2 separate regions of the Homo sapiens genome follow, and region 2 is linked to region 1. A link means that fine-mapping ties the variant in region 1 to the expression of a gene that starts in the linked region. Tissue or cell type: pancreas. Region 1 holds a variant in brackets; the other region holds the start of a gene. All regions are shown on one strand. Distances are between the middles of the regions. Region 1 overlaps SMIM14 (small integral membrane protein 14). Region 2 holds the start of UGDH (UDP-glucose 6-dehydrogenase).

Region 1 (16,427 bases):
CTCATATTAACATTCCTTCCTACCCCAATCCATCCCATCACCAAACAGGAATGAGATAAGGAGTGAAAAAAAGATGTATGTTTCTCATTTTCCTTCTTTTCCCTTGAAGTAAACCAGTAATTTATTAAAATATTTTATAGGTCAGAGGATAACAAAAGACTCAATGTAGTAAATAAGTAAATAGGCATTCAAATATCAGTAACCTAACAGGCCCTAATACAGCTTTAAGATTTTCTTCTTTTTTTTTTTTTGAGAGGGAGTCTCGCTCTATTGCTTAGGCTGGAATGCAGTGGTGCGATCTTGGTTCACTGCAACCTCCACCTCCCGGGTTCAAGCAATTCTCCTGCTTTGGCCTCCTGAGTAGCTGGGATTACAGGCACATGCACCAACCCTGGCTAATTTTTCTGTATTTTTAGTAGAGACAGGGTTTCACCATGTTGGCCAGGCTGGTCTCGAACTCCTGACCTCAAGTGATCCACCCACCTCAGCCTCCCAAAGTGCTGGGATTACAGGTGTGAGCCACTGCACTGGCCTAAGATTTTCATTTTAACAGGGAACTGTTAGAACAGAAAAGAAGCTTCCCAAGAGGCACTCATTTTAAAAATAAATTATAGCTTAAATTATTACTATGTGGATTATATCAGCAAAGGCAGAAAGAATTAATGTTTTCCTCCTTTCATGAACCTTGTAAGGCTAGTGTTGAGTGGCTTACAAATGTCATATAATGGACTGTAAATCATCTGCCATATTGATCAATCATGTTTATTTAAGGTTTTCTTAACATTAGAGATTTTTAATGGGAGTATAAAATTAGTAAACAACCATTTCATTTTTTCTCTCTTCCTATTCTAGCCACATAAGCCAGTTTAATCCATGACACAGATTTCAGCTGTAATTTGCAAAACAATCCAAGAGCTACCACAGTCCCCAAAACTACAGAAAACTGCCATCCACAAATAAACTACCAAGGTAAATGTAAATACAGCGTGGTTCTAATTTTCTTTCACACAATCCCAGACAACCCCAAATAACTTTATAAATACCTTATGAAAAAAAGCAATTTAAAAACCTATCAAATCTATTTAAAATATATAAATGCAGACCTCTCAAATTTCCTTCAATCAGGCCAGAAATTATCACAAAAATTATAATCACAGTTACAAACAGAATGAGTGGAATGTTTGTAAGTTTAGGACAACCAAAAAAGCCCCATGTAACTTTTTAAAAATATAATCATTCACTCAAATATACTGTAAATAGGAATGGCAGTAACACAGGAAGCAAAAATAAACTTGCAAGTGAAATTTCTAGAAGCTCATGAAAACAATACCATCCCATATTGCAGATACAAAAGGAAAAACAGTTCTAATGGGGTTAAGAGTACTCTGGTCATCTTCGTTCGTTTGGTCGTGCAAGGTGTTAACTATTTTCACTTCCCATATCACAAAGTTAGTCCACAGGAGGAGCTGGTGGATCTTGTCCCTGGCATTAGAAAGAAATAAATTATTTAATTGACTTTTTAAAAATTCAAAAAAATTTAAAATTTATTACTTTTTTAAAAATTGACTTATTAAATCCCAGTGCAACCAATCTAACACATAGAGAAACAACTGAGCAGCAATGCCCCCAACCATCCCATCCCAAATATATGCTTATTTGGACTTTTCATATGTTTTTACATGAGGGAACACTAGATTAAATAACACTGTGATTTTCCACCATTTGTCTCATTTTTCCCTGTAGAATGGAAGAGAGAGGGAATTTGTACAACAGTGATGTTATCACTCCTGCCAACCCCAGGAGTGATCTTCAAACCTATGAAAATATCTTCATCCCTCTTGCTAAAGTCGATTGGCTAAGCAAAGTACTGTATATTTAAAATGAAGCTAGGGACTTTTGTTTCTCAATACTGAATGTCTACGAGGATGCATGTGGCTGCAGTTGCTTCTGGTAGTCATCCTATAACCCTAAGGGGAGCCCATCTTGGAATGAAGTTGTTAGTATGAGGAAAGAAACTAGGTCTTTGATGACACTGTTGAAACTTTCTTAACACTGACCCTACCTCTGAATTTTTTTGACGTGTAAATCAATGAAGCCACTTGTTTTAAACCACTTGGAATTGACTTTTGTTAACTTGCAATAGAAAGCAAGTGAACTGTAAAGGAAAGATCAGAGTTTTTAAGATTCTCAAGATTTTATTTATTTACCCTGAAATGATACATGACGCCCGAGTTGGGGGTGATCAATATTTCTCCTTGGAATTAGTCTCAACACATTTTCTTACTTATTCCTAAGATAGTGGAACTACTATTCCTAGAAACACTGGCCTACAATGAATTAAGGTCCAGGAGAGGGTAATCTTGCATTTCTGTCATTTTAATAGTTTTTTTTTTTTTTTCCTTGAGACAGAGTCTCACTCTGTCGCCCAGGCTGGAGTACAGTGGTGAGATCTCGGCTCACTGCAAACTCCGCCTCCCGGGTTCAAGTGATTCGCCTGCCTCAGCCTCCCGAGTAGCTGGGATTACAAGCATGTGCCACCACACCTGGTTAATTTTTTTGTATTTTTAGTAGAGACAGGGTTTCACCATGTTGGTCAAGCTGGTCTCCAACTCCTGACCTCAAATGATCCACCTGCCTCAGCCTCCCAAAGTGCTGGGATTACAGGTGTAAGCCACCGTGCCCAGCCCACTGTAATGATTTCTAAGTCAGGTTATTAAGAGTTCTATTTCTTTAGCTCCAAACATTGAGGAATTTACTCTTTGATATGAAAGTAACAAAGCTATACAAAGAAAGTAAGAAAGAAGGCTAAGGAATAAACACTTTATCAAGACAATATGCAAGCTGTTTTATAAATACTCTCTTCTCCAAGAAAAAATAAAAATAAATGTAAGGCTTTTTATATAGTGCTAATAATGCCGGTTTTTTTTTTTTTTTGAGATGGAGTCTCGCTCTTGTTGCCCAGGCTGGAGTGCAATGGCGCCATCTCAGCTCACTGCAACCTCCACCTTCTGGGTTCAAGCAATTCTCCTGCCTCAGCCTCACAAGTAGCTGGGATTACAGGCACGCGCCACCATGCCTGGCTAATTTTTGTACTTTTAATAGAGACGGAGTTTGGTTATGTTGGCTAGGCTGGTCTTGAACTCCTGACCTCAGGTGATCCGCCCGCCTCAGCCTCCCAAAGTGCTGGGATTACAGGTGAGAGCCACCGCGCCTGGTCTATAATGCCTTCTTTCTTAAAGTTAGCATGCTACGTATCTTTTTTGTGTATGTTTTTCGTTTTGATTTTTTTTCTTTCTATGCTACATATCTAAATGTTCTATTCCTTAAAAAACAAAGCAAAACATTGACCAATTAACACTGCACATTTGCTTTCTCTTATATAAAAAATGAGTCTAACTGAACTTCTGATATCAACACCACAACACTGGAGAAAAGAAACAATTATTTTAGGAATTCCACAAGGTAAAGGTTGGAAAAGAGAATTAGTGGGATAATTTGGTATACAAGTGAATCTGGCCGGGCATGGTGGCTCATGCCTGTAATACCAGCACTTTGGGAGGCAAATGCAGGCACAGCACCTGAGGTTAGGAGTTCAAGACCAGCCTGGCCAACGTGGCGAAACCCTGTATCTACTAAAAATACAAAAATTAGCCAGGTGTGGTGACACACATCTGTAATGCCAGTACTTCGGGAGGCCGAGGCAGGCACATCACTTGAGGTCAGGAATTTGAGACCAGCCTGGCCAACATGGTGAAACCCCATCTCTACTAAAAATCCAAAAATTAGCCAGATGTGGTGGCGTGCACCTGTAATCCCAGCTACTCGGTAGGTGGAGGCAGGAGAATCACTTGAACCTGGGAGGCAGAGGCTGCAGTGAGCTGAGATTGTACCAATGCACTTCAGCCTGGAGGACAGAGTGAGACTCCATCTCAAAAAAAAAAACAACAAAAACAAGCAAATCTATCATGGAAATTTTCCTTTTTTTTTTTTTTTTTTTTTGATGCTCTATTACCTTATAGTTTTTTAATTATAAATTTTAACATTTATTTAAATTGACAAATAAAAATTGTATATATTTGTCATATACAACATGTTTTGAAATATGTATACATTTGTAGAATGGCTAAATAGAGGTAACTGGCAAATTCATGGAATTTTTTTTTTTTTTTTTTTTTTGAGACGAAGTTTCACTCTCACCGCCTAGCCTGGAGTGCAATGGCACGATCTTGGCTCACTGCAACCTCCATCTCCTGGGTTCAAGCAATTCTCTTGCCTCAGCCTCCCGAGTAGCTGGGATTACAGGTGCCCACCACCAGGCCCAGCTAATTTTTGTATTTTTACTAGAGACAGGGTTTCACCATGTTGGCCAGGCTGGTCTCGAACTCCTGACCTCAGGTGATCCGCCCATCTTGGCCTCCCAAAGTGCTGGAATTACAGGCATGAGCCACCGCGCCCGGCCTCATGGAAATATTTTTAAAGAGATAATATTCAAATTCAGTGTTAAAAAAAAAACATAAATACTGGTTCTGAAAAGGATTAAAAGGAATCCTTTAACAGAGGTTCTTTTTTTTTTTGAGACATAGTCTCACTCTGTAGCCCAAGCTGGAGTGTGGTGGTGTGATCTTGGCTCACTGCAACCTCTGCCTCCTGAGCTCAAACGATTCTCATGCCTCGGCCTCCTGAGTAGCTGAGACTACAGGCGCATGCCACCATGTCTGGCTAATTTTTTGTATTTTAGTAGAGACAGGGTTTCACCATGTTGCCCAGGGTGGTCTTGAACACCGGAGCTCAGGTGATCCGCCCCCCTTGGCCTCCCAAAGTGCTGGGATTGCAGGCGTGAGCCACAGTGCCTGGCCAACAGAGGTTCTCTTAAAGATAGTCCTGAAAACTCCCTATTGGGTCACTTTATCATAGTTTTAATTTAGAAGGTTCTAAAAATGGTTGTAATCATGACTATCAAGATTTATCAACATGAATGATTCCGACCTCTCCTTTTGCCAGCTCAGCTGATTTACTGTGGTACAGAAATGGAAAATGGGTTTGAGAGAAATAGGATGGGAAAATGAGGAAAATAAAATAAGACAGGCTCAGTGTCTCTACTGAATAGCTAGGACAGAAGGGGGTCAAACATTTCAACTAAAGCTACTAAGAGTTTAGGGGCTGGAAGCATGAGAGGCAAGGGATCAACTGTGAGGTGGACAGAACTGGGTAGTGGAGGATTGAGACTTGAGCAATATTGCTGTGGATTATGAAATGGATTATTTTTGATGCTTCTCATGTGAGTAAAGATTAGAATTCAAGCCTGGGCAACCTGGCAAAACCCCATCTCTACAAAAAAATACAAAAAACTAGCCAGGTGTGCTAGTGCATGCCTGTGGTCCCAACTACTTGGGAGGCTGAGGTGGGAGCCTAGGAGGTGGAGGCTTCAGTGAGCTAAGATCGCACCAGTGCAGTCCAGCCTGGGCGGCACAGCAAGACCCTGTCTGAAAAAAAAAAAAAAGGATTGGAATTCATTTTCAAATTAATTTTGGGCTTCTGGTCTGTGCTTCTTTCTGCATTTAACTCCATAAAGATTAAGCTGTCAATTAAATCTTGGAATTGCAATATTTAATAGAACTACATAGGTAGAATACTCTATGAGTTAAATATAATTTAACTAATTTAGGTGTTTTAGTCAAAACCAAGTCCTTCCCTGCCCCAGGCCACATACATTCCCTTACCCAAAAAGCATTTAAAATCTGCAACACTTACATTATGAGGACTGGTTGGCTTTCCAGGTAGGCTGGATCCTCTTAGATTAGGAGGTCTCAGTAAGAACAAGATCAATGCAATAACCATCCAGGCTACCAAGATCATTGTAACACTGATGCCATTATCACCAGAGGGTCCCGGTACTAAAGACAAACAAAAAATGTAGCATGCTCACAATATTGTTAAAAGTAAAAACAAATTCTAATGTTTAAATGTCAGTTTCAATTACTGTATTAATATAAAAATTGTATTGATAAATTACAAAAGTACATATTATATCTTCAATTTCCCTTTCCCCCAGTGAGAACATCTAAAAAGTAAATGATGTTAAATAGTCATAAACCAAAACTTAGTAAGTTTTTGTTGTTTTTGTTTTTTGAGACAGGGTCTTGCTCTATCAAACAGGCTGGAGTGCGGTGGCACAACCATAGCTCACTACAGCCTTAACCTTCTATGTTCATGGGATCCTCTCACCTCAGCCTCCTGAGTAGCTGGGACTACAGGTGTGTGCCACCATGCCCCATGCACCTAATTTTTAATTTTTATTTTTAGTAGAGACACTATGTTGCCTGGGCTGGTCTCTAACAATTTTTTTTTTTTTTTTTGAGATGGAGTCTCACTCTGTTGCCAAGGCCAGAGTGCAGTGGGACAATGTTGGCTCACTGCAACCTCTGCCTCCCAAGTTCAAGCAATTCTGCCTCAGCCTCCTGAGTAGCTGGGATTACAGGCATGCGCCACCATGCCCAGCTAATTTTTGTATTTCTAGTTGAGACGGGGTTTCACCATGTTGGCCAGGCTGGTCTCGAACTCCTGACCTCAGGTGATCCACCTGCCTTGGCCTCCCAAAGGGCTGGGATTACAGGTGTGAGCCACTGTGTCCTGCCCCACACCCCTAATTTTTTTTAAAATTTTTAGTAGTGACGACGTCTCACTATGTTGCCTGGACTAGTCTCTAACACATTTTTTAATAGTATAATAATTCTTAATATTTTGGGGTAACAGAATCATTTGAGAATTTGATAAAAATTAAGAACTCTTTCCATTTTAAGAATTCATGGGGTCTTCAACTGAGGTCTTGCAAGGCAAGCCGGCCATGCCATGTTTGTAGATTAATGAGGCTAGGGGCCCTAACTTCCCTAAGATCTACTTTTCTAGCTACCTTCTGCCCTGTGTCTGGCACCTACATCCTTCATGATTGTTCTTTTTGATCCATTCTGGATTAAAAATAAATATGAAAAGCACTCATGTATACCAAATTCCACAATTTTGTATATAATTGTGGAAGGTTTAAGAACCCACAAAGCCACGAATCCATATGAATCCAAGTTAAGACCACAGAAAAAACACTCTCCTTTGGGGGGAAAAATCTGCTTCTTAATTACAGAGGCATCATGAAAAAGAAAGGGGACATCTGGGCTGCGTAATATATACATTAAAAGACCCCTTGAATTACAGTCTCAACCAAAGAGATTAATTTGACCTTCTTTTTCACACAAAGGAGTTGAATTCAGATCTAGATATTTTAAAATTTTATCAATTTTTCTCTTCTATCAATTTTTTCTATTTATCAAGAGAAAAATGCTAGACAGGGATGTATGTGCGTATACAGGCATCAGTTTTTCCTGGTTCCTTGACATAGCCACGTCTTATTTAATTTGAAATAACAAGTGCCTAGCACAGTGCCTGACCCATGATATGAGGTTAACAAATTTCTAATAAATGAAACGTAGATTTTTTATTGAAGTATATTAGAGAACTCAATTTTCAGAAATAAAAATGGCCAGGTGCACTGGCTCACGCCTGTAATCCCAGCACTTTGGAAGGCCAAGATGGGTGGATTGCTTGAGCTCAGGAATTCGAGACCAGCCTGGGCGATATGGTGAAACCCCATCTCTGAGGGAGAAGAAAAGGAAAAATCCATTAGGTAAACAGTTAAGGCTGGGCCCCTAGAAGTGCTTGCCTGAAAAATCACAGCTGCTGCAGCTGCACAGATAAGCCTGGACAGATAAGCAGCCAGTAAAGCAAACAAGCCTTTTTGTTCTTTGTACAATCAGTGAGCTCCCAGGAAAAAGTTTCCTCCCCTTTTCAGGCATATACACAGTGGGCTCCGTGGGAACTTGCATAGGGCGGAGTGGGCTTACCTAAAAAAACCCAGTTATACAAAGAAGAGAAGCTGTGCTTTGTGCTTAGAAACAATCCCACAGCTGGAAAAAGGGAGTTGCACAGACAGCTTTTCGAAAAAGAAAAATTACTCAATCAGTTACAAGGAG[G/A]AGAGCAGTTTCTTTTTTTTGTTTGTTTTTTTGAGACAGAGTCTTGCCCTGTCGTCCAAGCTGGAATACAATGGCATGTCAGCTCACTGCAACCTCCACCTCCCGGGTTCAAGCAATTCTCCTGTCTCAGTCTCCCCTGTAGCTGGGATTACAGGCACATGCCACCATGCCTGGCTAACTTTTTGTATCTTTAGTAGAGATGGGGTTTCACCATGTTGGCCAGGCTGGTCTCAAACTCCTGACCTCGTGATCTGCCTGCTTCGGCCTCCCAAAGTGCTGGGATTACAGGCATGAGCCACCGCGCCTGGCTGCAGTTTCTTATAAAAGCATTTTGCATTCAGCTGTAACCAAGCTATCCACTTGGACTCCCCTCTCTGCAGAGAGCTTTCTCCTTTTGCTTATTACATTTTCGCTCCAACTTCACCCTTGTGACCATGCTCCTTAATCATTTTAGAGGCGAGACAAAGAACTCAGGGTGATACCTCACAAGAGAAACCAATATATGAAGGTGCATTGGTGAGACTGCAACATCTCTACGAAAATTAGCTGGGTGGGGTGGCGTGAGCCTGTAGTCCCAGCTACCCAGGAGGCTGAGGCACGAGAATTGCTTGAACCCAGAAGGCAGAGGTTGTAGTGAGCTCAGATTACACCACTGCACTCCAGCCTGGGCGAGTGAGCAAGACCCTGTCAAAAAAAAAAAAGAAAAGAAAGGAAAAGAAAAAGAAATAAAAATTATAGATTAGATTTCTAGAGGAAAATGTAGTATCCCTAGGTGATTACTAAAACAGCTTGTCAAGACCACAGCTGTTTGGTTTTGATCTCCTTGCCTCAGGAAAAAGTAAAAGAAATCCAGATAAGATGTTGAAACTAATCTGATACACTGCATTGGGTCAGTGGGTCCAGGGCTCAATTCCACAAAAGGGAAGGAATTGGTGGCACTGCTGAGGCCAAAAGGCTAGTGATAAAAGCGGACAAAGTCAAGTTAAGAGTTGCGCTGGCCCTGCTGCAACGAAGTCTTATGGCAAACAAATTAGTACAAAATATATATTAAAAAGAGCTGAGCTGGCCTAAGAGCAGGATGGATAGGAATGTAGCCTCTGTTCCAAACCCAGTCACTTCCCTAGAAACAGCTAAACAGGCCGGGCGTGGCAGCTCATGTCTGTAATCCCAGCACTTTGAGAGGCCAAGGCGGGCAGATCCCTTGAACTCAGGAGTTTGAGACCAGCCTGGGCAACATGACAAAAACCCGTATCTACAAAAAATTAAAAAAAAAAAATAGCCGGGTGTGGTGGTGTGTGCCTGCGGTCCCAGCTACTCAGGAGGCTGAGGTGGGAGGATGGCTTGAGCCCAGGAGGTGGAGGTTGCAGTGAGCTGTAATTGCACCACTGCACTCCAGCCTGGGCAACAGAGCCAGACACTGTCTCAAAACATAAACAAAAACAAAAACAAACACTTTCTTCCATTGTCTTCTGTGTCACTACCATTGTCTAACAGTTGGACACTCCTTCATCAATAATTCTCTTTTTCTTTATATCAACAGTTCTTTTCTTTTCTTTTTTTTTTTTTTTTGAGATGGAATCTCGTTCTGTCACCAGGCTGGAGTGCAGTGGCGCGATCTCCGCTCACTACAACCTCTGCCTCCTGGGTTTTATTTGTAGTAGAGCTGGGATTTCACCATGTTGGCCAGGCTGTTCTCAAACTCCTGACCTCAGGTGATCCATCTGCCTTGGCCTCCGAAAATGCTGGGATTACAGGCATGAGCCACCGCAATCAGCCAACATCAATAGTTCTTAAACTATGGTATATATCAGAGTCAACTGAAAACTTCTTAAAAATGCAGAAATCCAGGAAGCACGAGGTCAAGAGATCACCCGTGAAGCAGAGGTTGCAGTGAGCTGAGATCGCGCCACTGCACTCCAGCCTGGCGACAGAGCAAGACCCCGTCTCAAACAAAACAAAACAAAATGCAGAAATCCCACCTTCCACTTAACATATTCAGTACTTTAGTATTCCAAACAAAAATCATGAGCATCTCCCCCGCCCTACCCCCTTCCACCCCAACTACCAAACTGGATCTCTGTTCATCCAGTTGCCCAGGGCAGAACCTAAGAAAACACCTTTTTTCTTTCTCAACAGCCCTGTATTTAATCCATCATGAAGTTTCTTGCAATTTTTCCTCCTAAATATCACTTGTATCTGCCCACTTTTAGCTCCATGTCCCCACCTGCTCAAGCTACCATAACCTCTTATCTGGTCTATTGCAGTGGCCTCTTAAGGGATCTCCCTATATCTACTCCTGCTTCCCCTGTGCTCTATATTGTTTCCAGAGTGATTTTTTTTTCTTTTTTTTTAAAAGCAAATACATGTTGAGTTTCCCTGTGTGAAATGCTTGGGAATACAAGTGTTTCAGAATTCGGATTTTTTCAGATTTGGGGATATATGCAATATACTTATTGGTTCAGCAGCCCTAATCCTAAAATCCAAAATCTGAAATGTTCCAATGAGCATTTCCTTTGAGCATCATGTCAGCACTGAATAAGTTTCAGATTTTGGAGCACTTCAAATTTTCAGATTAGGGATATTCAACCTATACTATTATTTTTATTTTAAATAATAGTTAAGGCCAGACCTGATGGGGCTCATGCCTGTAATCCCAGCACTTTGGGAGGCCAAGGCAGGAAGATCCCTTGAGCTCAGGAGCTCAAGACCAGCCTGGGCAAAATGGCTGGTGCTGAACTTCTGGCCTCATGCAATCCTCCTGCCTTGGTTTCCCAAAGAGCTGAGATTACAGGTGTCAGTCAGTAGTCATGCCCAGCCATGACTTTTTAATATTCTTTGCAAGTAAAAAATTCTGAAGCTTAAGAGAGTTAAACCTCAGATTCCAAGTTTACTAATTCTTATTTCTAGACAAAGGATCCCTGATTCTTTTTTAGAATCTCACGCCGGGCACGGTGGCTCACACCTGTAGTCCCAGCACTTTGGGAAGGTAAGGCAGGTGCATCACCTGAGGTCTGGAATTCAACACCAGCCTGGCCAACATGGTGTTGGCCATCTCTACCAAAGCCCATCTCTACTAAAAATACAAAAATTAGCCAAGCATGGTGGTGCACACCTGTAATCCCAGCTACTTGGGGGGTTGTAGCGGAAAAATTGCTCGAACCCGGAAGACAGGTCGCAGTGAGCCGAGATCGTGCCACTGCACTCCAGCCTGGGCAACATAGTGAGACTCCATCTCAACAACAACAACAACCAAATAGTAATGTCCACTTCTTTTTTAGAATCTCACAATAGTAATATGACTCGTAGTTCCCTTAACTATCTCCTAGCTTGGTTCCTATTGCAGCTTTTCCTTCTTGCTTACTGCTGCCAGAAAAGTCTGCTTAAAACTGTTCTTGGCTGGATACAGTGGCTCATGGCTGTGATCTCAGCACTCTAGGAGGCCGAGGCAGGAGGATCCCTGGAGCCCAGGCGTTTGAGACCAGCCTGGGCAACATAGTGAGACCCCTGTCTCTACAAAAAAAATTAAAAAATTAGCTGAGTGTGGTGGTGCAGGCCTGTAATCCCAGCTACTCGGGAGGCTGAGGTGGGAGGATCACTTAAGCCCAGGTGGTCAAGGCTGCAGTGAATTGTAATCACACAACTGCACTCCAGCCAGGGTGGCAGAGACAGACCCTGTCTCAACCCCCAAACAAACAAACAAACAAACAAACAAAAAATCCCCTCTGCTCTTAACACATCTCTGCTGATCAATGTGGTAACTCAGTTTCCACTGCCTACTGTTTCAACTCTGGGGTTTTTCTGTTTTTATTGAGTCAGTGTCTCACTCTGTCTCCCAGGCTGGAGTGCAGTGGCACAATCACAGCTCACTGCAACCTTTGCCTCCCAGGCTCAAGTGATCCTCTCACCTTAGCCTCCTGAGTAGCTGAAATTGTAGGCGCATGCTGCCATGCCCAATTAATTTTTTTATATTTTTAAAACTTTTTTTATTTTTTAGAGACAGGGTCTCACTATGTTGCCCAGGCTGATCTCGAATTCCTGAGCTCAAGTGATCTGCCCACCTTGGCCTCCCAAAGTTCTGGAATTACAGGCATGAGCGACCCCACCTGACCCTAATTTTTGTATTTTTAGTAGAGACGGTGTTTTGCCATGTTGCCAAGGCTTGTCCCTAACTCCTGAGCTCAAGCAACCCACCCACCTAAGCCTCGCAAAGTGCTAGGATTATAAGCATGAGCTACTGTGCCCAGCAACTCTAAGTTCTTTAGCTCAGCCTTTCCTCATATGATTGGGCCTTACTCATCTAATCTTACCTCTTACCACTTCTCAGAAAATGCATCCTCTGCTCTAGTCACCCCCATACCTCTTCTTTTTTTTATTTTTTTTGAGACGGAGTTTCACTCTTGCTGGCCAGGCTGGAGTGCAATGGCACAATCTCTGTTCACTGCAACCTCTGCCTCCCGGGTTCAAGTGATTCTCATGCCTCAGCCTCCCAAGTAGCTGGGATTACAGGTGCTCGCCTCCACACCCGGCTAATTTTTTGTATTTTTAGTAGAGACTGGGTTTCACCATGTTGACCAGGCTGGTCTCGAACTCCTGATCTCAGGTGATCCACTCACCTCAGCCTCCCAAAGTGATGGGATTACAGGCATGAGCCACCGCCCCCGGCCCCTCTTCTTTCTCTAGCCAAGGATTCCCTGGCCTGGCTATGCATCAGAATAGCCTGTGACAGTATCAACACCACAGATTCTAAGGCACTGCCTAAGACCATCTGATTCAGGAGCAGCTTCGGGGTGGGATCAGGAGCCAACAATATTTTTTAAAAGCTTTCCAAATGAATCTGATGCAACAGTTGAATGCGAACTTGTCTGGCAGCATTTGCCAACTATGCAAATTCAGTCTTCCTGGGGTACTCGTTATTTCCCTGTCTGGCATGTTCTTACAACTAACTCCATTTATTCACCTATAACCTACATCCCTCTTCCATAAAAATCTCCATTTCCTCCACCCACTTTTTCCTCTGCCTTCTCTGGACTAGTATAGCATTTCTAGTTTGAAGGAATGGTTTCCCGTCTCTCCTAATTAACTTTTTAAGAACTGAGACCATCTCATAGCTGTTTGACTGTACCACCTCTTAGGTATATAATCCCTGAGCCTCAAGTTTCTTTTTCTTTTTTCTTTCTCCTCTTCCTCCTCCTCCTCTTCTTCTTCCCCTTCTCTTCCTCTTCTTCTTCTTCTTCTATTATTATTATTTTGAGACGGAGTCTTGCTCTGTCACCAGGCTGGAGTGCAGTGGCACCATCTTGGCTCACTGCAACCTCCGCCTCCCAGTTTCAAGCAATTCCCCTGCCTCACAAATAAAATGCCAAATGGAATATTCACAATGAAGCTGTTAACTTAGCTGGATACCAAGAGGATGAAAAGGTAGAGACAGAGGCTCTAAGAGCTGGCCCATCCTCAGAAGATTATTTGTATAAACTTATATAGGTTTCCGCTGGGGAAAGCAAAAACAGAACAGCAGTGAAAGTGGACAATACACCGGTATGCTCTAACCCTGTAGTTTTTGGTCCTATACAGTAATTACATTATCCTAAGCACAGCTACCAGTTTTCAAGCTGAGTCAAGGGTGATCTCTATCATTCCCTAATGTAGATCTGTTATTCTCCTACAGGCTGAGTATTCCTACTCTAAAAATCTAGAATCCTCCAAAATCCAAAACTTTTTGAGAGCTGACATCATGCTCAAAAGAAATGCTTATCGGAACATTTCACATTTTCAGGTTAGGGATGGTCAACTGGTAAATGAATCTGAAAAAATCTGAAACTGAATACACTTCTGGCTCCAAGCATTTCAAATAAGGGATATTCAACCTATACTTTCATATTGTGTTCTGCGAGGGTGCCCCATAGTGTTATTTCAGATTAGCGTTTTTTAGATAAAGATAACCTGAATGGAAAGCATCCTCTCTTTTGTTTAAAGGATTCTATTAAAAATGAAATACATGACTTTTAAGCAGGGGGCTAAGGGAAGCCTCACTAAGAAGGCACTCTGGAGTGAAAATGTAAAGAAAGTGAGGCTGTCAGTTGTGAGATTATCCGAAAGAAGCACATTTCAGGCACAAGGAACAGCGAGAACTCCTGATTCAGGAGCCTGTGGGATGTTCATGGAGGCCAATGTGGCTGAAGTGAAGTGACCTGGGATTGGTGGTATAGTGAGGTGGGATATAAGAAAAAGATTAAGCTGGGTGTGGTGGCTCACGCCTGTAATCCCAGCACTTTGGGAAGCTGAGGTGGGAGAATCACTTGAGGCCAGGAGTTCAAGACCAGCCTTGGCAACATAATGAGGTCCTATCTCTACAAAATAAAAAACAAACAAAATCAGCCAAGTGTGGTGGCACACACCTGTGGTCCCAGCTAATCAGGAGGCTGAGGTGGGAGGATTGCTTGAGCCCAAGGGGTTGAGGTTGCAGCAAGCCATGATTGCACCACTTTACTCCAGCCTGGGCAACAGAGTAAGACTTTGTCTCCAGAAAAGAAAAGAAAAAGATTAAATCAAAAGAGTAACAGGATTCAGATCATGTTGGCCTTATAGGTCATAATAAGCTTCTATTACATATTAAATAGAAAACCACTGAAGAGGGCTTTTCTTTTTTTTGGACAGGGTCTCACTCTGTCACCCAGGTTGGAGTGCAGTGGCTCAATTACAGTCACTGCAGCCTCAACCTCCCAGGCTCAAGTGATCTCCTAACTCAGCATCCAGAGTAGCTGGGGCATAGGCACAGGCCACCACGCCTAGCTAAGTTTTATATTTTTTGTAGAGACAGGATTTCAACATGTTGCCTATGCTGGTCTTGAACTCCTGAGCCCAAGTGATCTGCCTGCTTTGGCCTCCTAAAATGGGATTACAAGTGTGATCCACTGTGCCCAGACACCACTGAAGAGTTCTGAGCAAAATGCAGATGATATCTGACTCTCATTTTGACAGAACCACTCCATCTGTTGTGTTTTGAAAAACGAGAAACAGAAACACAGTGATATGGTTTGGCTGTGTCCCATCCCAAATTTCATCTTGAATTGTAACTCCCACAATTCCCATATGTCATGGGAGGAACCTGGTGGGAGGTGATTGAATTATGGGGGGCGGGCCTTTCCTGCGCTCTTCTCATGATAGTAAACAAGTCTCACGAGATCTCATGGTTTTAAAAAGGGGAGTTTCCCTGCACAAGCTCTCTTCTCTTGACTGCCACCATGTAAGACATGCCTTTCACCTTCCGCCATGATTGTGAGGCCTCCCCAGACATGTGGAATTGTAAGTCCAATAAACCCTTTTCTTTCGTAAATTGCCCTGTCTTGGGTATGTCTTAAATTAGCAGTGTGAAGACTGACTAATACAGACAGTTAAGAACCTGTTGCAATAATCTATTAACATACGAGATGATGATGGCCTAGAACAGGGAGGAGGCAGTGGGATAGTGAGAAGTGGTAGAATTTTGGATGTATCTTCAAGATAGTGCTTGCTGATAGATGACTGGACAGTGTGAGAAAAAGGGAAGCCAAGGATGAGTCTCAGAAGGATAGAACTGCCATTAACTGTTATAGGAAGGATCTCAAGAGAAGCAGAAATTCTGAAGATGTTGAATTTGAGGTGCCTTGTTAGACATCCCAGTGGAAATGCCCAAAAGACAGTCATCAGCATACAAGTAATGAGTCATGAGACCAGATGAGATCACCAAGTGAGTGAATGTCTAGAAAAGGAAATAATCCAGGGGCTAAGTCCTGGAGCATTCCAAGGATAAAAGTTAAGAGGTCTGGAGGACAGACAGACGCACCGAGAAAGAAGACAGCAGATAGCCGCAATGCAGCCAGGCACAATGGCTCATGCCTGTAATCCCAGCACTTTGGGAGGCTGAGGTGGGTGGATCACCTGAGGTCAGGAGTTCAAGACCAGCCTCGGCAACATACAGAAACCCTGTCTCTACTAAAAATACAAAAATTAGGCCAGGCGTGGTGGCTCACGCCTATAATCCCAGCACTTTGGGAGGCCATGGCAGGCGGATCATGAGGTCAAGAGATCGAGACCATTTTGGCCAACATGGTGAAACCCTGTCTCTACTAAAAGTACAAAAATTAGCCAGGCGTGGTGGCGTGCACCTGTAGTCCCAGCTACTCGGGAGGCTGAGGCAGGAGAATCGCTTGAACCTGCGAGGTGGAGGTTGCAGTGAGCTGAGATTGTACCACTACACTCCAGCCTGGTGACAGTGTGAGACTCCATCTCAAAAAAAACAAAAAACAAAAATTAGCTGGGGATGCTGGTACACGCTTGTAATCCCAGCTACTTGGGAGGCTGAGGCAGGAGAACTGCTTGAGTCCAGGAGGTGGAGGTTGTAGTAAGCCGAGATTGCGCCATTGCACT
Region 2 (11,118 bases), 30 kb before region 1:
GCCTGGGCAACAAGCACGAAACTCCATCTCAAAAAAAAAAAAAAAAATTATTGATTCTGAATAATGTTCATATGGTTCAAAATTAAATCTGTTGTAACAAGGTACACATGAGAAGTCTCACTCCAACCCCTTCCTTATCTACTTTGCTATCCCCTACTTTGCTTCCACACAAGCAATCCGTTTTCTTGTATATCCTCCCAGCTACAAGTAAATATACATATATATTCTAATAATCTTGTCTTTCTAAATTCAATAGAATACCATATATACTATTAACACCTGGCTTTTTTCACTTAATTAAACCCAGTATATCTAGAATACCTAAAGAGTAGAATCTCAAAGTAATGTTGGACCAGAGGATCTTTTAGGGTTACCACTTAATCTCCTAGCCAAAAGGTTATTAGGGCAGCCTTTACTCTTAATCTCAACCAGGACAGGTTCTGCTAACACATTTATTAAATGTAGAATCAGTGTCTACTCGTTGCAGCTCCTGGGCTTAAGGAGTTCATAGTTTAATAAGGCACAGCCAGGCTAACAGTTATTTGCTGCTGCTCCCTGCTGTATCCTTGACTCCTAGAATAGCAGCCTCTCAATGATTATTAATTGAATGAATGAGTAACTCTCCACAAGGGCGTCTCTTTTTGAGATGAAGACTTCTGTGTAAATAGCTTTAGTTCAGATTGCCGATCATAGTATTTTTGCAGTAATTGACCAGAATACTATCAACTTTTTTTTTTTTTTTCTGACACAAGGTCTCACTCTGTTGCCCAGGCTGGAGTGCAACAGCACAATCTGGGCTCACCGCAGCCTCCGCCTCCCAGGTTCAAGTGAGTCTCCCACCTAGCCTCCCAAGTACCAAGTACCTGGGACTACAGGTGTCCGCCACCATGTCCAGCTAATGTTTGTATTTTTTCTAGAGACAGGTTTTCACCATGTGGGCCAGGCTGGTCTCAAGCTCCTGACCTCAGTTGATCCACCTGCCTCAGCCTCCCAAAGTGTTGGGATTACAGGTGTGAGCCATCGCATCTGGCCAAGTTCTTTTTTTGAGTTACCTAAAGAACTTCAGCATGTTTCCCCAGAGTTACTTCTTATCTGCCTTGATTGTGAGACCACATTTCAACTTGCTTTACATACATCAGCTGGGATAGACTACTGATGGCAGGTGAACTTGTATCACAGAACTGGATGTGTTTTACACAAGCTTTATTTTGGGTATTCTCGCCTTGCTATTTCCCATGAAATACGGCTTACCGATGACAATGGGAGAATCAATGAAAAGGCTGATGTACAATCTGTGCAAGTCCAAATAAATGCTCACTTGGAAGTTTCAATAAAATCTTCAATAAGCTTTAACATGGAGTTTGACATAGTGTTAGTGACACACTTTGCATGACACAGATGTCTGCCAACTCCATTTTCTATTTCTTTTTTCTTTTTGAGACGGAGTCTCACTGTCACCGAGGCTGGAGTGCAGTGGCACCATGTCGGCTCACTGCAACCTCCGTCTCCTGGGTTCAAGCAATTCTCCTGCCTCAGCCTCCCGAGTAGCTGGGATTACAGGTGCCCACCACCACGCCCAGCTAGTTTTTATATATTTAGTAGAGACGGGGTTTCACCATATTGGTCAGGCTGGTCTCGAACTCCTGACCTCAGGTGATCCATCCACCTTGGCCTCCCAAAGTGCTGGGATTACAGGCGTGAGCCACTGCGCCCAGCCCCATTTTCTTTTCTTTTTCTTTTTTTTTTTTGAGACGTAGTCTCGCTCAGTTGCCCAGGTTGGAGTGCAGTGGCGCAATCTCGGCTCACTGAAAGCTCTGCCTCCCAGGTTCATGCCATTCTCCTGCCTCAGCCTCCCGAGTAGCTGGGACTACAGGCGCCCGCCACTACGCCCGGCTAATTTTTTTTTGTATTTTTAGTAGAGACGGGATTTCACCATGTTAGCCAGGATGGTCTCGATCTCCTGACCTCGTGATCCGCCCGTCTCGGCCTCCCAAAGTGCTGGGATTACAGGCGTGAGCCACCACGCCCGGCCCCCATTTTCTATTTCTACTTTTATGTACCCTCTGGCCCTCTATTCTGCTGTCAGAGACATAGGAGTGTTTCCTTATTAAATGGGTTATTTTGAAATGAGTTTTTACCTCTGTATTTTGGGAGAGTCACAACAAACCAAACCGTTCCAAAACTACTCTTCATGTAAAATTTCATAAATTCAAATAAACATTCCAACCCAGAAGGGGTCACTAACAAATAACAAATGCCCTACTACAATCTAAACGGAATATAATCCTTCTAGCCCCAGCTCTCTACAGCATATTTTGCATAGGTACCCAGGAGCTAACGATGGGCATTATAGTTGGATACATCAGCTTCACACATTTTAATCATTTCCAGAAATTAAACAGTAAAAGATGCCTGACCAGAGAAAAATATTTAATCAGTAAGAAAGCCGGTATTAATTTTATGTCTAAGGGTTATCATGTAAAGCTGTGGAAGTAAACAAGAAGGAAGATGGATTATGCTTATCCAGTTATAGATTTTGTTAGAAAAAGGAGTACAGCAACGGGAGAAGAAATGAGATCTTTTCAATCAGGGTTGTCTACCCCTTACCTTAAACTGGATCCTGGCCACTAATAAGCACATCTCAGAGCAGACAGTCAGCTCTTTCATTTCCAGAACCCCCCTGAAGAAAGACTACTGTTCTCCATTTCTTAAGGGATTTGAAGAAACTCAAAGGCTCACTGTGTCTTTGAGGTCTGTCGATAGACAGCTACTGCTCTGTATGCCCATGAATAGATCCCTACCAGCGAACCCCTCTTTTCTCTATACTAGAATTCCTAACCCTACTAAGTTATCTTCCTATATATTTATAGGACGTATAATTTTTCAAGATCTCACACAAACATGGTCTCCCGAGGCACCCAGGAAAGGCCTTCCCCGACATCAAACAGAGCAATTCTGTGGTGTAGGGGGCCAACAATGGATTCCAGGACATCCCGGACAGATATCACGGCAGTCTTAGTATTTTGCTCTCAAGAGGGCTTTCTGGCTTCGTTTCTCTTTGGTTTCTTAAGAGGGGCGGCATGAGAAAAGCAGGAGCCCCTCAGGTGAGCAGACTCTTAAACACAAACAAAAGACTACGACTCTGCGGCCAAAATGAGGTCCCCAACGAGAGAACCGCTTCCTGTGGTGGGCGTTCGGCTTTGGAGGCGGCAGGGAAATCTCATCCAAGTCAGGAAAGTGGGTAAAGGCAGAAAGAGAAGGGGCTGGAAGACTCACGAGTCTTGAATAAGAAGCCCAGACGACCACATCCCCAGGACAGCAGTTCCAAAATGCGGTTCCCGCCCTAAGCCCCAAAGAGACGAAGGTCGTGAGACGGGAAGCCCGGGACCCAGCGCAGCGAGCGACCGGGAGCAGCGCGCACACCCCAGCCCCGCTCCCTCCACATCCCGCCCAGACCTGGGAGCATCCCGCCCGGGCGGCGGGGCCAGCCTGGGAGCGGCGCTTACCCACTTCCCAGCAGCAAGCGCAGGGACCGCTCCTATCCCGATCGTTCGGACAGCACCTTCCTACGGGCCGCGCCGCCGCAGCTTCTCCACCCGCGCCCCGCTCGATCTGAGCTCCCTCTCGGCGCACGCCCCTCCCTCAGGCTGCCACGCGTTACACTCTGAGTCCCGGGCCTGAGCCCGTATTTAAAGGCTTTTGCCTGCGAAGGCGGAGGCTTCATTCCCCCGCAGCCAGGCCCTCCTGGATTCTGCCCTCAGCTGCTTCCTAGCTCCCCCTCCCGCTACACAAGGCCCAGGGCCAGGTCCCTATTTCCTTCACGGCTCAGGGGCGGGGAGACTGGGGCTGGTCCTGGCTGGGAGGGCCTGCCCCGCCCCTGGCCTAGCTGGGCAAATCCGCTTTGGCCAGCTCAGCGGCTCCGCCCCTACCGCGAGCGGCGCTGGGCGGGGCTGCGTGCGTGGCGTGTCCGCTGGACCAGGGGACGGGGGCGCGCCGCAGGTGTAGGAGCTTTGCGCGCCTACCTGGCGGTCGTGGGTCGAGGAGGGGTCAAGAATTGTTGTCTAGCAGCCCTCTCCCCGCTGCCCTGTCCTGGCCGAGGCAAAGGCCGCGTGCGCTCCGCGTCTGCCAGGCTTTAGGGCTGCGCGGACACTGGGTGGGTGGTGGGCCGAGGCGACCGGAAGGTCCTGGCCGCCTTTCCGGTCTCCTCAGCACCCTGGAGCGCCGCCCTCGGGTTTCGGTCTCCTGGATCTGCGGGTCGGTCTCGGCGGGCGGATTACTCCTCGCCCACAACCTCGAGGCCCCGGGGTCAACCGCGCCCTCCGGGCCGGCAACCCAGGGTTTAGTCAGATTCCTCCTGACCCACCGCTTCTGGGAAAGAGGCGCCTCCCGTCAGGAGGATGCTGAGTTCCTCATGACTGGACCAGTGAGTGTCCACTCCCTGGTCCCTGGCGAGAGAGGCGGGACCCCCACGCCCTCCTGGCGCTCTTTGCAGAGATGTTCCTCAGGCCCAATCCGGGATTTGGGATGTCTGTGCGTGCTGTGGAGCAGAGAGTTTGCAACATGTAAGTGCCGTGCGTGAGGAAGAGTAAAATTAACCTATGGAGCCTGCTCATTTTTAATGTGGAGGGCAGTTCCGTTCCTTTCTTTCGCCGCTTCGAGGTCATTTTAACACTCAAATCTAACATATAAGAAAAAAAGCCAGGCATAATCATGGCCTTTTATTTCCCTCATTAAGGATTACATCAGGTGACATAAGCCATTTTAACATACATCATGAAGAAAGTGATTAGTAATTTATAAAGGCACATTAAAATACCATATAAATTACGGTTTTCTTGATAGGATCATGATGGTGACTTTAAGAAAGTGGTTGAATGTGGATGAAACAGTTTGCTGTGGATTGTAGCACGTGTGGCAGGATATGTAGGCTTGTTGGTTGGTTGTTTTGAGACGGAGTCTCCCTCTTGTCGCCGAGGCTGGAGTGCAGTGGTGCGATCTCGGCTCACCTCAACCTCCTCCTTCCAGATTCAAACGATTCTCCTGCCTCAGCCTCCCGAGTAGCTGGGATTACAGGCGCCCACAACCATGCCCGGCTAATTTTTATATTTTTAATAGAGACCGGGTTTTGCTATGTTGACCAGGCTGGTCTCAAACTCCTGACCTCAGGTGATCCGCCCGTCTCGGCCTCCCAAAGTGCTGGGATTACAGGTGTGAGCCACTGTGCCTGGCCAGTATATGTAGGCTTTCTGCATTCTATGCAGTTCAGTTCATTCATCCAACAAATATTTAATGCCTGTTGTGTGTCAGACGTTATCCTAAAGACTGAAGATGCAAAAGGGATTAAGACTCAATTCCTTTGGCCAGGCACGGTGGTTTACGCCTGTAATCCCAGCACTTTGGGAGGCCATAGCGGGCGGATCACCTGAGGTCAGGAGTTCCAGACCAGCCTGGCCAACATGGTGAAACCCCGGCTCCACTAAAAATACAAAAAGTTAGCCGGGTGAGGCGGTGGGCACCTGTAATCCCAGCTGCTCAGGAGGCTCCCTGTTGCAGTGAGCCGAGATCACACCACTGCCCTGCAGCCTGGGGAACAGAACGAGACACTGTCTCAGAAAAATAACCAAACAAAAAAGACTCATTTCCTTCTTGCAAAGCTCACAGGTTGGGTAGAAGAGATATGTAAACAAGTAATTGCACTAGATATGACAAGTACATCTTTTTGAACATACATAGATTTAAGTTATCTAATACAGTTTGCTTTGTAATAAAAACCACTTATCTTAGTCCCTTCATTTTGAATTCAACATTTTTCTATTTAGTATTCACCTCACATTCTTTTTTAGTATTTTGGTAGAATCAGACTCTTCAAAACGGTTAATAGGATTTCAGAAATTAAGTCAATTTTCAGTGCCAGCTAGAATGGACCTTTGGATTTAGGACAGAGGTTCTCCAAATGTGAGCTGGGGACTGTAGACAATCTCCGAGGTTCTTTCTGGGATCCATGAGGTCAAAAAGTTTTCATGTGTTACTTGCTTTTTTCACTCTTGTTCTCTCAGAAGTGTACAATGAAGTTTTGTGGAGACTATAATGTGCTATCAAAGCAAATAGAATTAAGCTGTTTTTTAAGTCAGATATTAGAGATTTACAAAAATGTAAAACAATGCCAATCTTATCTTTTGTTTTTAAAATATAGTAATTTTTCATTAAAATATGATATTTATGTTAACATGTAATGGGCTTATTGTCAATTTTAAGGAATTAATCTTTTATATATAATTTATCAGTTTTCATTTCTAATATGGTAAATACCAATAGTTACAATCCACATGAAAAAAACTTCTTTGAGTCTTCAATTTTTAAACATGCCAAGGGGTCTTGATACTACAAACTTTGAGAACTGCCAAGGTAGGCTAGTTATTTTCAAATTATGTTTCATGGAGCCCTGAATCCTCTGGTAGTGTGTCAGAAATCTGTGAGGATAGAGAATCAGTAGGAAGTTAAAGACAAGGCTCTGGGTTCCCACATCTCCCCGTCTTCTCTAATGGCAGTTCAATTTTTCTCTGTTTATCTGGTTTTTTGTTTTTTGCTTTTTGTTTTTTTTTTCTTGAGACGGAGTCTCGCTCTGTCATCCAGGCTGGAATGCAGTGGTGCAATCTTAGCTCACTGCAACCTCCACCTCCCAGGTTCAAAAGATTCTCCTGCTTAGGCCTCCCAAATAGCTGGGACTACAGGTGCGCACCACCACATCACGCTAATTTTTGTGTTTTTAGTAGAGACAGGGTTTTGCCATGTTGGCCGGGCTGGTCTCAAACTCCTGACTTCAGGTGATCCACCTGCCTTGGCTTCCCAAAGTGCTGGGATTACAGGCATGAGCCATCATGCCTGGCCTGTTTATCTGCTTTTTGTATCAATTAGGTGGAGACTCTCAAACTTCAATTCTTGACTACTGTGTACCTACAGGCTCAACACCAAGTGGAAGCTGCCAAGGCTTGGGGCTTCCACCCTCTGAAGCAATAGCCCAAGCTATGCCTCAGCCCCTTTTAGTTACAGCTGGGGCAGCTGGGACACAAGGCACCAAGTTCCTAGACTGCACACAGCAGAGGGATCCTGGGCCCGGCCCACAAAACCATTTTTTCTTCCTAAACCTCCAGGCCTGTGATGGGAGGAGCTGCCATGAAGATCTCTGACATGCCCGTTTTCCCCATTGTCTTGGTGATTAACATTCGGATCTTCCTTACTTATGCAAATTTCTACAGCTAGCTTGAATTTCTCCTCAGAAAATGAGATTTTCTTTTCTGTCATGTTGTCAGGCTGCAAATTTTCCAAACTTTTATGTTCTGTTTCCCTTAAAAACTGAATGCCTTTAACAGCACCCAAGTCACCTCTTGAATGCTTTGCTGCTTAGAAATTTCTTCTGTCAGATACCCTAAATCATCTCTCTCCAGTTCAAAGTTTCACAAATCTCTATGGCAGGGGCAAAGTGCCGCCAGCCTCTTTGCTAAAACATAACAAAAGTCACCTTTGCTCCAGTTCCCAACAAGTTCCTCATCTCCATCTGAGACCACCTGATTGGATTTCATTGTCCATATAATTATCAGCATTTTTGTCAAAGCCATTTAACAAGCCTCTAGGGAGTTCTAAACTTTCCTGCATTTTCCTGTCTTCTTCTGAGCCCTCCAGACTGTTCCAACATCTGGCTGTTAACCCAGTTCCAAAGTTGCTTCCATATTTTTGGATATCTTTTTAGCAGTGCCTCACTCTACTGGTACCAATTTACTGTGTTAGTTCTTTTTCATGCTGCTGATAAAGACATACCCAAGACTAGGAAATTTACAAAAGAAAGAGGTTTATTGGACTTACAGTTCCACATGGCTGGGGAAGCCTCATAATCATGGTGGAAGGTGAAAGTCATGTCTCACATGGCAGCAGACAAGAGAAGAGAGAACTTGTGCAGGGAAACTCTCATTTTTAAAACCATCAGATCTCATGAGACTTATTCACTATCACAAGAACAGCACGGGAAAGACCTGCCCCCATGATTCAATTATCATCTGCCGGGTCCCTCTCACAACATGTAGGAATTATGGGACCTACAAGATGAGATTTGGGTGGGGACACAGAGCCAGTCATAGTAAGGTATTGTTTGGGTAAAACATAAGCCTTTCTTTCCTTTCTTTTTTTTTTTTTTACAGGGTCTCACTTTGTCACCCAGGCTGGAATGCATTGGCATGAACACGTCTCACTGCAGCCTCAACCTCCCAGGCTGAAGTGACCCTCCAACTCTGCTTTCACAGTAGCTGTGATATGGTTTGGCTGTGTCCCCACCCACATCTCATCTTAAAACCCAGTGGGAGGTAATTGAATCATGGGGGCAAGTCTTTCCTGTGCTGTTCTTGTGATAGTGAATAAGTCTCATGAGATCTGATGGTTTTTAAAAGAGTTCTGGCTGGGCATGGTGGTGGGCACCTGTAATCCAAACTACTAGGGAGGCTGAGGCAGAGTGAATTGCTTGAACCTGGGAGAAGGAGGTTGCAGTGAGCCGAGATTGCACCGCTGCACTCCAGCCTGGGCAAAATTGAAGACTCTGTCTCCAAAAAAAAAAAAAAGGAGTTCCTCTGCATAAGCTCTCTCTCTTTGCCTGCTGCCATCCATGTAAGATGTGACTTGCTCTTCCTTGCCCTATGATTGTGAGTCTTTCCCCAGCCACGTGGAACTGTAAGTCCAAATAAACCTCTTTCTTTTGTAAATTGCCCAGTCTTGGGTATGTCTATCAGCAGCATGGAAATGGACTAATACAGTAAATTGGTACCAGTAGAGTGGGGTGTTGCTGAAAAGATACCTGAAAATGTGAAAGTGACTTTGGAACTGGGTAGCAGGCAAACATTGGAACAGTTTGGAGGGCTCAGAAGAAGACAGGAAAATGTAGGAAAGTTTGGAACTTCCTAGAGACTTGTTGAATGGCATTGACAAAAATGCTAATAGTGATACGAACAATAAGATCCAGTCTGAGGTGGTCTCAGATGGAGATGAGGAACTTGTTGGGAACTGGAGCAAAGGTGACTCTTGTTATGTTTTAGCAAAGAGACTGGTGACATTTTGCCCCTGCCCGAGAGATTTGTGGAACTTTGAACTTGAGGGAGATGATTTAGGGTATCTGGTGGAAGACATTTCTTTTTTTTTTTTTGTGACGGAGTCTTGCATTGTCGCCTGGGGTGGAGTGCAATGGTCTGATCTCAGCTTACTGGGTTCAAGCAATTCTGTCTCAGCCTCCCGAGTAGCTGGGATTACAGGCGTCCGCCACCACGCCCTTCTAATTTTTTGTATTTTTAGTAGAGACGGTTTCACTATGTTGGCCAGTGGAAGACATTTCTAAGCAGCAAAGCATTCAAGAGGTGGCTTGGGTGTTGTTAAAGGCATTCTGTTTTGACTGGGTGCGGTGGTGCACACCTATAATCCCAGCACTTTGGGAGGCCGAGGAGGGTGGATCAAGAGGTCAGGAGTTCAAGACCAGCCTGGCCAATATGGTGAAACCCTGTCTCTACTGGAAATACAAAAATTAGCTTGGCATGGTGGTGTGCGCCTGTAGTCCCAGCTTCTCGGGAGGCTGAGGCAGGAGAATCGCCTGGACCCGGGAGGTGGAGGTTCCATTGAGCCAAGATCATGCCACTGACTCCAGCCTGGGCAACAGACTGAGACTCTGTCTCAAAAAAAAAGAAAAAAAAAAAGGCATTCAGTTTTATAAGGGAAGCAGAGCATAAAAGTTTGGGAAATTTGCAGCCTGACAATGTGATAGTAAAGAAAATCCCATTTTCTGAGAGGAAATTCAAGCTGGCTGCAAAAATTTGCATAAGTACCAAGGAGCCGAATGTTAATATCCAAGACAATGGGGAAAATATCTCCCAGACATGTCAGAGGTCTTCATGGCAGCCCCTCCCATCAACAGGTCCAGAGGCCTAGGAGGAAAAAGTGGTTTTGTGGGCAGCACCCAGGGTCCCCATGCTATGTGCAGCCTAGGGACTTGGTGCCGTGCGTCTCAGCTCCTCCAGTGGTGACTGAAAGGGGCCAACATAGAGCTCGGGCTGCTGCTTCATGGGGTGGAAGTCCCAAATCTTGGCAGCTTCCATGTGGTGTTGAGCCTGCGAGTACATAGAAGTCAAGAATTGGGGTTTGGGAACCTCCATCTAGATTTCAGAAGATATATGGAAATTCCTGGATGCCCAGGCAGAAGTTTGCTGTAGGGGTGGGGCCTTCATGGAGAACCTCTGCTAGAGCAGTGCAGAAGGGAAATGTGGGGTCGGAGCCCCCACACAGAGTCCCCGCTGCGGCCCTGCCTGATGGAGCTGTGAGAAGTGGACCACCGTTCTCCAGACCCCAGAATGGTAGATCCACCGACAGCTTGCACCGTGTGCCTGGAAAAGCTGCAGACACTCAATGCCAGCCTATGAAAGCAGCCTGGAGGGAGGCTTTACCCTGCAAAGCCACAGAAGTGGAGCTGCCCAAGACCATGGGAATCCACCTCTTGCATCAGTGTGACCTGGATGTGAGACATGGAGTCAAAGGATATCATTTTGAAGCTTTAAGATTTGACTGCCCTGCTGGATTTCAGACTTGCATGGGTCCTGTAGCCCCTTTGTTTTGGCCAATTTCTCCCATTTGGAATGGCTATATTTACCCAATGCTTATACCACCATTCTATCTAGGAAGTAAATAACTTGCTTTTGATTTTACAGGCTCATAGGCAGAAGGGATTTGCCTTGTCTCAGATGAGACTTTGGACTGCGGACTTTTGAGTTAATGCTGAAATGAGTTAAGACTTCGGAGGACTATTGGGAAGGCATGATTGGTTTTGAAATGTGAGGACATGAGATTTGGGAGGGGCCAGGGGTGGAAGGATACGGTTGGGTTCTGTGTCCCCACCCAAGTCTTATCTTGTAGCTCCCATAACCCATGTGTCTTGGGAGGGACCTGGTAATTCAATCATGTGGGCTGGATGCGGTTGCTCATGCCTGTAATCCCAGCACTTTGGGAGGCCAAGGGGGAGATCACTTGCGATCAGGAGTTTGAGACCAGCCTGGCCAACATGGTGAAACCCCATCTATACTAAAAATACAAAAATTA

What was found.
Region 2: it holds the start of UGDH, and the variant in region 1 is fine-mapped to the expression of UGDH in pancreas (GTEx, PIP 0.90).

Annotation. Positions count from the first base shown.
Region 1 is chr4:39,550,677-39,567,103 of GRCh38, forward strand. It overlaps SMIM14 (small integral membrane protein 14), which reads right to left. Exons shown (of 5, transcript NM_174921.3): 4 at 5,752-5,894; 5 at 1-1,482. The coding sequence ends at 1,450. The region is part of intron 2 of UGDH-AS1 (UGDH antisense RNA 1); the gene reads left to right. Among named protein-coding and RNA genes, the nearest start is that of UGDH-AS1, 31 kb to the left of the region's middle. The variant G/A (reference allele first, on the strand shown) is at 8,022.
Region 2 is chr4:39,523,777-39,534,894 of GRCh38, forward strand. It overlaps UGDH (UDP-glucose 6-dehydrogenase), which reads right to left and starts at 3,663. Exons shown (of 12, transcript NM_003359.4): 1 at 3,507-3,663. It overlaps UGDH-AS1 (UGDH antisense RNA 1), which reads left to right and starts at 4,063. Exons shown (of 5, transcript NR_047679.1): 1 at 4,063-4,562; 2 at 8,193-8,354. RefSeq lists silencers at 3,378-3,557, 3,808-4,107 and an enhancer at 4,488-4,547.